Regions from separate parts of the Homo sapiens genome. Here region 1 is linked to region 2. The links come from fine-mapping of genetic effects on gene expression. Tissue or cell type: whole blood. Region 2 holds a variant in brackets; the other region holds the start of a gene. All regions are shown on one strand. Distances are between the middles of the regions. Region 1 holds the start of NDUFS8 (NADH:ubiquinone oxidoreductase core subunit S8). Region 2 has its middle 26 kb from the start of CHKA-DT.

Evidence for each region. PIP is the estimated chance that this variant, and not a neighbour inherited with it, causes the effect. A credible set is the group of variants that fine-mapping cannot tell apart.
Region 1: NDUFS8 starts here. The variant in region 2 is the best candidate, but not a certain one, in a credible set for the expression of NDUFS8 in whole blood (INTERVAL, PIP 0.67).

What each region holds. Positions count from the first base shown.
Region 1 is chr11:68,029,412-68,032,205 of GRCh38, forward strand. NDUFS8 (NADH:ubiquinone oxidoreductase core subunit S8) reads left to right here and starts at 1,270. Exons shown (of 7, transcript NM_002496.4): 1 at 1,270-1,322; 2 at 2,741-2,794. The coding sequence starts at 2,741. It overlaps GLTC1 (glycolysis associated regulator of LDHA post-transcriptional modification 1), which reads right to left and starts at 1,023. Exons shown (of 4, transcript NR_197583.1): 1 at 882-1,023; 2 at 1-9. RefSeq lists enhancers at 1,011-1,305, 1,297-1,476.
Region 2 is chr11:68,146,335-68,149,128 of GRCh38, forward strand. No RefSeq gene overlaps it. Among named protein-coding and RNA genes, the nearest start is that of CHKA-DT, 26 kb to the left of the region's middle. The variant C/A (reference allele first, on the strand shown) is at 1,713.

The DNA of each region.
Region 1 (2,794 bases), 120 kb before region 2:
AGGAATCACCTGATGAAGGGCCAGGGTCAGGTGTGGGCCACCATCCCAAGACCTCCCTTCTCTCTAGGGCCAGCCCCTCTCCTCTGAGCACCTGCTGACCAGCCCAAAGCCCTCTCCACTCCTCAGCTTGAACTCCCCCAGGGTCTCCCTGTGGCCCACAGGTCCTTTGGAGGCTCGGGCATCTGCATGCAAATCCCAAACCACTGTCCCCTTTGCACACACTGAGCCTGCCCTTGTCCTCGTCCTGGTCTACCATGCGTGTCCTCCCTCTGCACGGGCATGGGACATGCCCTCTGCCTCCTTCCTGTCCTGGCCTGCCCAACTCCTACCTACCCTCAGCGCAGATCCTCCCAACACACACATGCAGGCAGCCTCGGGGCCTCTGCGGGTCCCTCTACCACAGCATTCCCGGGGAAAGGCCCGGCGTGGTGGCTCACGCCTGTAATCCCAGCACTTTGGCAGGCCGAGGCAGGAGGATCGCCTGAGTCCAGGAGTTCCAGACCAGCCTGGGCAACATGGCGAGACCCCGTCTCTACAAAAAATACAAAAATTAGCCGAGCCTGGTGGTGGCAGGCGACTGTGGTTCCAGCTGCTCGGGAGGCTGAGAAGTGAGGATCACCCGAGCCTGGGAGGTCGAGGCTGCAGTGAGCCGAGATCGCACCACTGCATTCCAGCCTGAGCCACAGAGCCAGATTGTCTCAAAAAAAGAAAAAAAAAAAAAAAAAAAAAAAAATTCGCTGGTAGGAAACATAGGCTGGTTGAGTACGGGAGTCATACAGATCAGGTGGATCAGGCGGCCGCACACCGCAGCTCTACGGCCCGGGAACGTTACTAAATACTCCCATGCCTCAGCTTCCCGCCTTAACGTGGTAACACGTTACTGTAGTTTCTCCACGCAGAGCTGCTGTGAGGATTAAAAGAGGCCGCGTGAGTTGAGCATCTCGTCGCCATTACCGTCATCACACGCCCCCCACCCAACCCGGCGGGCCCACCCTCTGCACCCACGGCGAAAGCACTCTTTCTAAACCACGCCCCGGATGTCCCGCCTCCAGCGGCTCGGAGGTCTTCACTTATTGGCCTCCCCAAACCAACATGGCGGCCCCCTACAAACTTCAAGCGCCGGTCTCTCCTAGCCAATCAAAAGAAAGATATTTCTGAATCCCGCCTCTTTCAGCAGCCTTGCTGGCCAATCAGACCACACCATGAAGCATCAATACAGAAAAGGGGGAACCCGCTGGCCCAATGGCAGCGTCCTACAGTGTAGCCTCCGCCTCCCGATTGACTGGCCTGCTTGGCAAGGCAAGTAGCGGCGGCGCTTCAAGGTGGGTGTTCACGTTTTGGCCGTGAAAGTCGGGCTTGGGCAGCGTGGCGTCGGGGGCGAGTGTGGTGTCCCCGTTGGCGCCGCCAGCTCTGCGCCTGGGCTTCCCCTCGGCTCACTCAGGATCCGCGGCCTCCGTGTCCTTCAGGTGCAGCGGGGAGCCGGCTCTCAGGGCGCATGCGCCGCCCGCTCTGCGCCACCGGCCTAGTTAGGGTCGGAGATCACTGGGAAGGTGGGGAAGGTGCTGGGTTGGGTCCCTGGAACTGCAGTCAGTGATCCAAAGGAGTGGGCCTGTTAGGGGGTTCACAGGTCGTGGGATGAGCTCTTATGAGCGCCGGCTAAGTGCCGGGCTCTGGGGTGCCCTTGGCATGTACGGGCTCCCCTAATTCCCAAGACCAACCGCCCCCAACCCACTTCATAGGTGAGAAGACGGAGGTCAGGTCACATCATCTGCCCAAGGTCACGCGGCAGGCTGGGGGACAGTTCCAGGAGGGCCTTGAAGCTGGGGAAAGGAATGTGGTACCGAGGACTGTTCAGGCCTTGAAGAGTTTCCAGCAGGGCAGGGCTGGGTTCCGATCCTCGGCCCACCTCCTTATCGTGTGACTTCCGACAAGTCACTTTTTTATCTTTTTTTTGAGACAAGGTCTCACTCTGTCGCCCAGGTTGGAGGGCAGTGGTGCAGTCTGGGCTCACTGCAACTTCTGCCTCCTGGGTTCAAGCGATTCTCCTACCTCAACCTCCCGAGTAGCTGGGATTATAAGTGCCCACCACCACACCTGGCTAATTTCTGTATTTTTTGGTAGGGACGGGGTTCCACCATGTTAGCCAGGCTGGTCTCAAACTCCTGACCTCAGGTGATCCACCTGCCTCAGCCTCCCAAAGTGCTGGGATTACAGGCGTGAGCCACCACACCCAGCCCTAGCGAGTCACTCAACAAACTGAGTCCCAGCGCCTTATTTGTGCCTCCCTCGTGGAGTCCTTGTAAGGATAGGATGGCAGCGCTTTCCACCCCTGGGCACGGTTCCTGGGGGAGGAGAGCTAACAAAGTTCGCTCTCAGTGCATGCTGGCGGGGGCTGGTAATGTTGTTTTTGGTTAGATTTGGGGAGGATGAAGGGAGGAGCAGAAAGGTGGGAAACAGGATCTCTGGGAGGGAGAAAGGAAGGATGGATTTAAAAGGTTTCTTAGGTGAGGCAGAACTTGGGGTCCACAGAAACTGAATTGTAGCTCAGCCAAGCTGAATCAGATGGAAAGCTGGGAGGCGCTGGGAACAGGAAAGCCATCTGTGCCTCTGACAGCAATGGGGTGCGAGTAGAGGGCAAAGTGACACATGTCAGTGGAGACTTGGGATCCTTGCGGTGCCAGTCTCAGAAGAGGATGGTTCTTGGGCACACCCCACCCTCCATCCCTTTTTATGCCACCAGATGCGCTGCCTGACCACGCCTATGCTGCTGCGGGCCCTGGCCCAGGCTGCACGT
Region 2 (2,794 bases):
GCTCAGACCTCACACCACGTCGTTTGCCCAACCCAGAGAAAGCTCTGTCCCCGGCTTCTGGCTCCTTCTCTGCCAGGACTCACTGGGTGTGATGAGTTGGTCTTGGGGCACTGTCTGGGCACAGCCTGTTTGCCCAACATGGCCTCCTGGGCTCCATGCTTCCGCAGGTGGGAGGGGTCTGGACTGGCCCAGGGGCTCTGACAGCGGCTGGCAACCTGAGGTTTTGACTTCAGGGTGACCTGAATCCTGCCGCATTATGGAGGCTGGAGTCTCTGGGGGCTGCTTTCCCAGAGAAGAAGCTCCTTCCCCATCAGCCTGACATTGGCTCCAAGGACTCCATGTGGCTGGAGGGCTCAGGGCTAAGGGGAGGGAAGCCCCGGGATGGCAGTGAGGGGTGAGGGAAGATTTGGGAGGTGACATCTACAAAGAGACCTGAGCGGGTGGGGCAAAGAGGGGGTCCCAGGCAGAGGGAGAAGCAAGTGCAAAGACCTTCATAACCCAGGGGAGCGCTGAGACCACCGACCAGCAGCACCCCCACTTCTTCAAGCCACCACTCCTCAGGGCCTCCCAGGGGTCCCCAGCCTGGAGCACCCCATGTGGTAGAGCTGGTAGGCTGGGGGACACTGGGGACTGCTGTCCCACTTGGAGCCTCGGGCTACTCCGCCCAGGAGCAGCGATGTGGAACCTTGTTGGATTTTCATGTTCCCAAACATCCAGGAGACACACAGTTGTGAGTTTCCAGCCAGGCGATCTCTAAGGCCAGAGCAGCCCTTGTGGGTGTCAGTGAGGAAGGGCAGAAAGACTCTGGCCTCAAGCTCAGCTCCCTGCTGCAGGGAGTTGAACGCCCCTTTGGTGAGTGGCTCTAGCTAAACAAACACGTGTTATCATCTGTCAATAGCGGCCACCTCCTTGCTGGCTGGGCTGCTGCTGGCTCAAAGCCCAGAGCAGCCCTTCCGGGGCACTGCCTGCCACAGCCAACAGTCAGGGAAGGGCAGCTACTGCCCTGGGTTCAAGCCCGGGCTACCCCTGCTCCTGCTCACTGTGTGTCCCCAAGCAAGTCACTGTCCCTGCCTCTCTGTACAGTGGGAGGCCTGGATCTCTCTGCTCTGGGAAGACACCCAGCCCTGGAATGGTTGGGCCACACTTGGGGCTGGGGGCCAGGAGGAAGTTGGAGGGCTGGGCTGGGGCTGGGGCTGATTAGTTGAAGCCAGTAGAAAAGTACAGGCTTTGCTATTAGATTCCAGGAAATAACAAAAGCTGCTAACAGTTACCGAATGCTTACCACGCACCCGACGTGGTGCTCACGCATCTTTTGCTGTTTTATTTCATCCTTAGTGAGTTGGGTACTATTATCATCTCCATTTTACAGAGCAGAAACTAAGGCTCAGATAGGAGACGCTGCAAAATCAGGAGGTGGTGAAGACAGAATGTGCCCCTAGGGTGCTGATCAGGGCCCTCACCTAGAGGCAGATGCCCCCATCTCCTAAGGTCAATGGTCCTCAGCTATCATCCCTTTTTTTTGTTTTTTGAGGTGGAGTCTCGCTTTGTCGCCCAGGCTGGAGTACACGATCTGGGCTCACTGTAAGCTCCGCCTGCCGGGTTCACACCATTCTCTTGCCTCAGCCTCCTGAGGAGCTGGGACTACAGGCGGCCGCCACCACGCCTGGCAAATTTTTTGTATTTTTAGTAGAGACAGGGTTTCACCATGTTAG[C/A]CAGGATGGTCTCGATCTCCTACCCGCCTCAGCCTCCCAAAGTGCTGGGATTATAGGCATGAGCCACCACGTCCGGCCAGCTATCATCCCCTTTTAAACTTTCTGGACTGGCCACGCTGAACTTCTCACCCTCCTTTCCATAAGACACCCTGTCCTTCCATGTCTCCAGGACTTTGCAGGTGTCCACCGCCTCTGCCCTTTGGGCTTATGAACTCCTATTCATCTCTCAGGACCCTTCTTAATTTTACCTCCTCCATGAAGCCTGCTTTGCTTGGTTCCCCAGCAGAAACAGGGGGCACTCTCCTTGGTCCTCCTGCCACGCTTCTTCCACACATGCATCCTGGCAATTACCACATTTTACTGATGTTCGTGTGTGTTTCCCTGGAGGGAAAGGAGTGGGTTTCAATCACCCCCATATCCCCTGTGCCTTTTGAGTGACCAGCCGTTATTCGGCACTCAAATAGGGAAGGCTGTCAGGGGAGCAGCTGACTGCAGAGAGACTGCCTTGGAAGGAGGAGAGGCCCGGGGGTGGAGCGGAGGTTTCGGGTAAACAGAGGCGGCCTGACTGACAGAGGGGCATCAGCCAGGGGAAAATAGAACCGGGATCCAGGATCGTCTGAGTACGCAGCTGAGCTGGAGAAGGTTGTAATGAAGGCAGTTTGAGCAGGTGTCAGCTGAGGAGGGCAGAGGTTAGGGGCAGAGCAGGGCGCATGAGGTGTCTGGGGTGCACCCACAGACTGTTGAGGCAGGACACGGGTACCAACTGACTTGGGTGCCAGACCCATGTGAAGGGCACGATGGGCACTCTCCTGCTGAATCCTCAACAAACCCAGAGCGCTTTCACTCCCTCTGCTTTACAAGTTACAAATCTGAGGTTTGGGAACAAGTGAGGCAGGGCAGGTGCCCCCCAACCTTGCCCCAGGCCAAGTGGGTGCCTGAGTCAACTCTGGTCCACTTGGATGACAGTCATGTGCCACCACACCTAGCTCAGCCTCCCCAGCTTGCCGCTTACCGCAGAAGAAAAACATGGTTTGACTAGCAAGAGGAGGAAATTAGAGTTTTGTGTATAGAAGAGTCACTCT